3 separate regions of the Homo sapiens genome follow, and all the other regions are linked to region 2. The links come from fine-mapping of genetic effects on gene expression. A gene starts in region 2. Each other region holds a variant in brackets. All regions are shown on one strand. Distances are from middle to middle. Region 1 overlaps NUP54 (nucleoporin 54). Region 2 holds the start of NUP54 (nucleoporin 54). Region 3 has its middle 22 kb from the start of CCNG2.

Region 1 (2,769 bases), 25 kb before region 2:
TTTTTAAGAAATTGATAAATAGCTGGATTCTCTTTGCTTATACTTCATTTAGAATGTGGTTTTTTGGTCCGATTTGAGGTATACTCTACATATGACAATTCACCTGTTTTAGGTGTTCAGTTCTATGAATCTGGCAAATACATACAGTCGTGTAACCACCACAGTGATTAAGATACAGAATATTTCCATCACCCCAAGCCCCTTGTAGTCACACTTCTCTCTTCATCTACAGTCCCTGGCAACTACTAATCTGTTATCTGTCCCTAATTTTCTTTTGTATAATGTTATATAAATAGAATCATGCCTTACACAGCCTTTAAGTCTGGCTTTTTTCACTTAGCATAATTTGCATCTCTTTAAAATAGCTGTTTATAATTTCTTTTTTTGAGATGCTACAAACAGAAATGTAAAATGGTACAGTTGCTTTGGAAAACAGTTTACGTAGTTCCTCAAAAAGTTAAACATAGTGTGCATATGACACAGCAATTTCACTCCTAGGTTTATACCCAAGAGAAATAGAAGTATATGTCCAAACAAACACTTGTAAATAAATTTTAATAGCAATATTATTCATAATAGCCAAAAAGGAGAACCACCAAAATGTCCATCAATTGAGTAAAATGTGGTATAGCCATATGATGGAATATTCAGCAATAAATGAATAATAATCATTTATTAGTACCTGAAGTACTATTACATGGTACAACACAGTTGAACTTTGAAAACATTATGCTAAGTAAAAGCCAGTCACAAAAGACCATATATCGTTATGATTCCATTTATATGAGGTTTCCAGAACAGGCAAACCCATATAGGCAAAACTGGTTGCATAGGACTGACAGATTTGCAGTGAAACGGGGAAGTGACTGACAATGGGTACGGGATTTGTCTGTAGGGTGACAGAAATGTTCTAAAATTGATTGTGGTAATAACGGTTATACAAGTCTCTGAATATACTAAAAGCCATTGAATTGTACACTTTAAATGAGTAAATAGTATGGTATGCAAATTATCTTAAGCTGTGAAAAAAGAACAAATGAAGCTGTATAAATTATTCCTCAATTGTCTAGAATAATCAAAATAACACTGGATTAGCTCTTTTGTGGTTAGACAAAATTTGGCAATGAAACTATCTGTCCCTAAGGCCTTTTTCATGTTTCATCTTTCATTTTTCCAACTGTTTCTGTGGTATTTGTTTTCTTACTTCTCTGTAGATTTTGGTAATTTTCATTTTCATAGAAAAATCAAAATAAAACTTCCTCTGAGTTCCAAATCTGTTACCCTAAAGTACATGCAGCATCTTCTTTTTTTTTTCTCCTTTTTTCTGAGATGGAGTCTTGCTCTGTAGCCTAGGCTGGAGTGCAGTGGCGTGATCTCGGCTCACTGCAACCTCCGCCTCCCAGGTTCAAGCAATTCTCGTGCCTCAGCCTCCCAAGTAACTGGAACTACAGGCACAAGCAACCATGCCTGGCTGATTTTTTTGTATTTTAGTAGAGATGGGGTTTCACCGTGTTGCCCAGGCTGGTCTTGAACTCCTGAGCTCAGGCAATCCACTCACCTCGGCCTCCCAAAGTTCTAGGATTACAAGAGTGAGACAC[T/C]GTGCCCGGCCCATGCAGTATCTTCTTATTCTGTTTTGTATATCTACGGTGATGCCTCTTTTCCCACTACTAATTTTGTATATTTTACTCTGTTTTTCCCTTCTTCCAGCTGATGAGATGCTTAGTAATTTTAACGGTCTTTTCAAAGAAACAGTTTTTTAATTTATTCTTTCCACTATTACATTTTTTAGTCTTTCACTAATTTCACATTTATCTTTCTTTCTTTTTAGTTTCTTTTGGCTTATCTTGATATTCCTTTTCTAATTTAACATGAGTACTAAGTTCCTTTATTTTTCACATTTGATTTTTTTAAATGAGAATTTTTTATGGCTGTAAGTTTTCCTCTGAGTACAGATTTTGCTGTTTCCCACTGGTTCTGGTATGTAATATTTCTGTTTTCATGATAGTTTATAATTTCAGTTGTTATTATTCTTTTAATTCCTCCTGTTAATTTGGAAATTCTATTGTTTTTCGACCATTATGGTTACACTCCTTTTTCTAGCACTCAAAAAATTTTCTGAACTATTTTATGAAACTATTTTATGAAATTTATGAGACATCAATAATCTCACAGAAGCTTCCCTTGCACTAAGATGCTTTATTTCTTCACTGCTTTCCCTCAAACTGTCACTAAAATACGAACTTTAGGATATTTTTATTCTCCTCACTCAAACCTATGAGACTTGTTTTCCAATTTCAAAGTTTTACTGAAAGAATTCGGTACTTGTAATTTCACATTATTCTTTCATTTTAGTATTTTTTTTTCTATTTTAAAAATCTATATTTAGTACATTATTTCACACACATAGTCTTATAAACACTGGGGGGGAAAATCCAAATTACTACCTGTAAAGTTCTATGGGAAAGATCCATGAGTTTCCTCTTGTATTGTGCAATTTTGGCTACAGATGTAGTTTGATTCTTTTGTAGCTCACTAATATCTTCAGATATGATCTGTTTAAAAAAAAATTGGGGGGGGGAGGGTTAATCAAATATCACAACTATTTATCAGTTACACCTGTATGGAAATTCTAATCTTGGGATAAGCCTGAGATTCATCTCTCAAAATATAAACTCTTTCCCTATAAATCTGTGCTTTATATTTCTTCCCTTTTTACATACCTAAAATTTTTTTAAAAGAATCATGCAAAGATATCTTTAGAGCTCTAGG
Region 2 (2,769 bases):
ACCCATAAACCTATTTTAAATGTATATATCATTATTGTTTTGCAAAATTTCTAATGAGCTGCAAACAACCCACGTGCATATGAAAATCTTCATAATTATCTTTTTGAATGCAAAGACGTCTAGCTTACCTTTTAGAATTCGATGCTATATCACATAAAACTAAACTGCTCTCTTTGAGCATTTCCCAAAATTCCAGCAAAGAACTGGGGATTCTTTCTATAATTACAAATCTTATAGAAATTACACATCTTATAGTATCCTAATCTGCTGAGTTGACCAAAGAAATACATTATTATCATTATAACACAAGTTAAAAAACAAAACAGGTTACTGCTGTTCGTATAAGACTTGTTTCTCTTTGGAAACACAAGGACAATAAAATGAAATCTCAATGAAAGATGCAGAAAAAATGAAAAATGACTGCAGGAGTCCAAGAATCCCAGGATGGGCTTGACTGGTGGTGAGTTTATACTTTGGAAGTCCTACCTAATAATTTTAAAGATCTATTCAAAATTATAATCCAAATGCTTATCATTTGGAAGATAAGTGCACATTTAATAAAGGAACACTGTAACTTGCAAAACTTTCCTAAACCACATCTTTTAAGGCAGTAAAAACTTGATACAGATGTTTTTGATTCGAGATAAGGAAATAAATTTCCTTTCCCTATTAGACAAGTAACTGTTCTTTCCCAAACTCCAGGAACCACAATATTCTTGGACTCCAGCTCCCAACACTGGTTACACATACAACCCGCAGTATCTACCTGCACTTGCCAGACTGTTACCAAAATTGAACGGAGTCGCCGAGGTAGTAGAAACACCGAAATTCCCAATATTAAAGTTCACTGCAGGATTAGCAGTTAATCCGAAACCCCCAAAATTAAACCCACTGGCGGTGGAGTTGGCAGTCTCAAGCCCACCAAATCCTGATAGGCGTGTAGGCAAAGAAACAAAATTTTAAAAAGGGGGAGAGGGAAAAAGAAAAGAAAGCAAGATAAGGATTAGAAGAATCAGCAGGAGGTTTCACAGAAGTGAACAAACCTGGTTTTGCTCCAAACAGTTTAAGAAAGCAGAGTGGGGGTGGGGTGGGGCAGATGGAAGAAGCATGACGGATAAACCCCACAGCGAGGACCACAGGGGGCCGGGGGTGGAACTAAGGGAGTCAATGGGCAGTGCCGGTGGATCCCCAGCCCTATCCTCGCCGAGTCCGGCAGCGGGAACCACGCAAGCGTTCCCGCCCATCCAGGAGGCTGAGGTGCAGAGGGGAGGGAGGTTCTCGGGCAAGGGGAGAGGGAAGCAACCTCCAATTTCTCTGAGTAGGACTCCCCGGCAGCGGGAAGCGAACCGCTCAAGCCAGGGCCCTGTGGAAACTCACGCGCGGCAAGCGAGCTTCTAGTGGGACCCCGAGTACCCCCGTGGCCTCCTCGGGTGCCGCCTCGGCCCACTCTGCCGCCGCCCGCCCTTTTCCAATGCCTCTAAAGTCTCCGCGTCGGCGGGAGATTCCAGGATCCCCAGGTCGGAGAGTCTCGGACAGAGGGGGCGGACCAGACCCTTCCCCTTCTTCCCGGGTGAAGGTCTAGGGGGATCACTCACCCGCGGGGGCCGCGGTGGCTGCAGCGGTACCGGAGGTGCCCGAGGGAGCCCCAAAATTGAAGGCCATGTCGCGAAAGCAGGAGACCAAGTAGGTTACTCCTGCGACGCGCAGCGCGCTCCCCTTCTCAGTCCGGCCGGGAAACCGCCAGTCAGATCACCGAGTTCCGCCTCCTTTCTGACCTAGCCTAAGAGGCCGGAAGGCGCCAAGGGCGTAGGAGGTGGGTGGTTGTGAGGGAACGCCCCCAGCCAGCTCACTTCCGGTGGGCTTCACATGCTGTGGGGTGTCACTGTTAAGGTAAAATGCTGGGACGCTCGCGAGGGTGTGCCGCCTGAGAGTCCTTTAAAAACTGCCGTAGGGAGGTTCTTTGGGAAAGGTGTGCAGAGGCTGAAGTTGTTACTGTAGGGATACGCGGTAGACAGCTAGAATTTGTATGTGGTAGGGTTGAAGTTGCTGCCTCATCAACTAGCGGGCCTGGGAGGTCGGGCAGCAGGGCTGGGGTTGAGAACCCCCCCAACACCCACGAGGAGGTGGTATTTGAACCCAGTGCTGAAGGATGAGTAGACGGAGCAGAAGCAGTAAAGAGGATGCACGTTGGAAGAAATGAAAGCGAATGGAATTGTAGCAAACACGTTGCGTTTACTATGTGCCAGGCACTCTTCTAGACATTTTACATAATTTAATCAGCTATCTTATGAGGTGGGTTGCTGCTATCTCCAATTTATAAAAGAGGAAACAGGTACCAAAGGGTCAGGCTGTTTACAGAGTAAATACTCCTAACCACAGCTCTAAGGGGAGCACTGAAAAAGAGGGGAAGAGTGGGCCCCCTCTGTTGTACTTGTAATATAATTTAATCCTCAGAATAAATAAATAGAGAAGATTCTGTAACTGTATTTTGCAGGTGAGATGAGAGAATTGAGGTTTGGAGTTGTTAAGCAGCTTGCCCAAAGTCACCTTGCAGGTAGGTTCTGGAGTCTGGTTTTGGACTCATGTTTCTCCACTCCAGAGTCCCAATTTGTAAAAATTACCATTATATTATATTGCCTTGTAAATTATGGTAAGGATTTCAGACTATTTCTTGAGGGTAATGGGAAACCTTTAAGGGGTTTTAGGCAGAGGACTAGTATGACTAGAATTTTGTTTTTAGAAGATCCCTCTGGCTGCCATAAGGAGAAT
Region 3 (2,769 bases), 990 kb after region 2:
TTGTATAAGATGGTTCCTTGACTTTTCCTCCCAGCTGCAGTTTATTGTACCAAGAGTGACTATTGACCAACGCTGGACCAATCTGAGCACTTACTCTACAAATTTGGAATTGAGGTGGATAAGGAGTAGAGGCAAGGATGAAGAAAGAGAAGGAGGGAGATTGATTCAATTTCCCTATGAGACAGATCAGTAATCTACACACTTGTGAGTTGTGTGTGGCCTTATTCTGCCAGGCAGACAGGGAAACAGAGTAAGCTGGGGTGCATGGACAGAAGAATGTGATGGTTACATAGAGAGAAACACAAATGGGAGGCACAGAGGAAATCAGGCCCACATGTCCCTTATGCTTCCATCAGATACCGCTGCAGTCATATCATAAATTCTCCTTGTTTGCTTCACTTAATTCAACTGGATTTGGTTTTTGTCACTAAGAGGCTCCCAACTAGATACACCATTTTCTCCTCTTTATCACCCTAATGCTATGAAGTTCACTTCCTTTTCTCTTTTTGAAAGAGGAGGAAAAATCGACAAATTCTTCAGCTATACAGTTCCCTTGGGCTTGTGTCCTCCATATGGATTATGGAACATAAAAACCATGTCAACTTTGTTATCTCCCATCGCAGCTGATGTTTGGAACCATTATCGGTACATATGCTTAAATTGAAAAATAACAGTTTAAAACCGAGATAGTGATGTGAAAGCACCTGGCAGGTTGCCTTTCCCAGTAAATATGATTTAGATGCCATTGGATACCAAGAACAGAGGCTCACTCAAGTTTTCGTTTTGTTTTGTTTTTTAATAGTGGGTTTTCAGAAAGATATACATAGACAAAAAGAATCTCACCTACAAGCTAAGGCCTGGCATTGCAGTTCTAAGCCCTAATTTTTCTTTTTTTTTCTTTTTTTTTTTGAGACGATATCACCCAGGCTGGAGTGCACTGGCCCAATCACAGCTCACCGCAGCCTCCAATCCTGGGCTCAAGCAATCCTCCCACCTCAGCTTCCCCAGTAGTTGAGACTACAGGTGCATGCCAGTATGCCCAGCTCAATGTATATGTATATGTATATGTATATGTATATGTATATGTATATGTATATGTGTATATATGT[G/GTGTA]TGTGTGTGTATGTGTATGTGTGTGTGTGTGTGTGTGTGTGTGTATATATATATTAGCTGGTCTCAAACTCCTGACTTCAACTTCAAGCCATCCTCCTGCCTTGGCCTCCCAAAGCACTGGGATTACAGGTATGAGCTGTGGCACCCAGCCTGTAAGCCCTGAATTTTCTAGCTAATCATTCAGTAGCAAAAGTTTGCTGACCCTCCACAATTAACAATTATAGTGGGTTGGTTCCTCTTTGTCTCCACCTTTATTGCTTCTGCCTCTCCTGTCCACCTTCTATTCAGTCTCTTTTCTCTACCTCATTGTTTTCTGTTTTTTCTTACTCATTGTCTCTCTCTCGCGCGCGCCTTTTTTTTTGAGACAGTGTTTTTCCATGTTTCTCAGGCTGGTCTTGAAGACTTCTGGGCTCAGGCCATTGGCCTGTCTTGGCCTCTCAAATTGCTAAGGATTACAGACATAAGCTACTGTGCCCAGCCATGTCTCCTTCTTATAGTTTCATCTTATAACTTTTGTGTGCTGATGACCTGTCATAGCTCAGACTACCCTCATTTTCTCTAAGTGTTTTTTCCCCTCTCAGCTTGTGTGTCATCTACATCTGGCTGGTTCTTTTTTATATTTGCTCTTTTAAACTTTGAAGAGAAAGAGTCTGATTTCTCTAGATAATATCTGTTTTGGAAGAGCTCTTGCATTAATGTCCTCATAATATCCTGGTTTCTATGAGCCATTATATTGAATGTCTTCAGTCTAAAGTCATGGCTAGGAGATGATGTGGATGGTGGGTGTTATGGAGGGTCCATATGGTCTCATGATAGATCATGGCAGCTGAGTGCTGCCTCCCCAGGAGGGACCATCGACATGACTGTCTTGTTTAATATAACATTCAATAAATCCTCCTTTCTCCCTTTCTTTCCTTTTTTATTTTCCTTTTTGTATCCAGCATAGTGATCTGGGGAAATCTCTTTTTAGAACAGGAGAGAAAGGTCCAATCTTTCACATTTATGTGGTCCTGACTCACATGCAAACTTTTCAAAAGAACACTGTGGCCTGGTATTTTTTCATTTGTCATGTGCAGCAGTTTTGAGTGGTCTATGTGAGTTTGGGGAGATCCTTTCTGGAGTCGGTGAGGTCAAAATTATTTTTACTATAATACTAAGATGATATGATCTTTTACTATTTAACTTCATTGACCTTTGTACTCATGGTGTAAAGAAATGGTGGTTAAAATTGCTGGCATTGGCCAGGCATGGCGGCTCACACCTGTAATCCCAGCACTTCGGGAGGCCGAGGTGGGAGGATCACTTGAGCCCAGTAGTTTGGGACCAGCCTGGGCAAGACAGTGAGACTGACCCTGTCTCTTAAATTTAAAAAAAAAAAAATCTGGCATCTGAGTACGACTCAAGGCAGTGGCACCAGACCATACTAGAAGTCATTGTATTTTGTCACTAGTGCAGTAGCAGTAAAAACAAAGTTTTAAGAATGTGCTTGGCAAGGCACCATGACTAATGTCTGTAACCCCAGCACTTTGGAAGGCCGAAGTGGGCAGATCACCTGAGGTAAAGAGTTCAAGACCAGCCTGGCCGACATGGCAAAACCCCGTCTCTACTAAAAATACAAAAATCAGCTGATTGTGGTGGCATGCGCTGGTAATACCAGCTA

Evidence for each region. PIP is the estimated chance that this variant, and not a neighbour inherited with it, causes the effect.
Region 1: its variant is fine-mapped to the expression of NUP54 in whole blood (TOPMed, PIP above 0.99). The same link has a PIP of 0.9 or more in blood mononuclear cells.
Region 3: its variant is fine-mapped to the expression of NUP54 in monocytes after LPS (Quach 2016, PIP 0.95).

The regions. Positions count from the first base shown.
Region 1 is chr4:76,122,205-76,124,973 of GRCh38, forward strand. It overlaps NUP54 (nucleoporin 54), which reads right to left. Exons shown (of 12, transcript NM_017426.4): 9 at 2,445-2,552. Among named protein-coding and RNA genes, the nearest start is that of NUP54, 25 kb to the right of the region's middle. The variant T/C (reference allele first, on the strand shown) is at 1,599.
Region 2 is chr4:76,146,713-76,149,481 of GRCh38, forward strand. It overlaps NUP54 (nucleoporin 54), which reads right to left and starts at 1,685. Exons shown (of 12, transcript NM_017426.4): 1 at 1,596-1,685. The coding sequence starts at 1,662. It overlaps LOC124900718 (a long non-coding RNA gene), which reads left to right and starts at 1,837. Exons shown (of 2, transcript XR_007058144.1): 1 at 1,837-1,890; 2 at 2,495-2,769. RefSeq lists an enhancer at 1,635-1,794.
Region 3 is chr4:77,133,977-77,136,745 of GRCh38, forward strand. No RefSeq gene overlaps it. Among named protein-coding and RNA genes, the nearest start is that of CCNG2, 22 kb to the right of the region's middle. The variant G/GTGTA (reference allele first, on the strand shown) is at 1,110.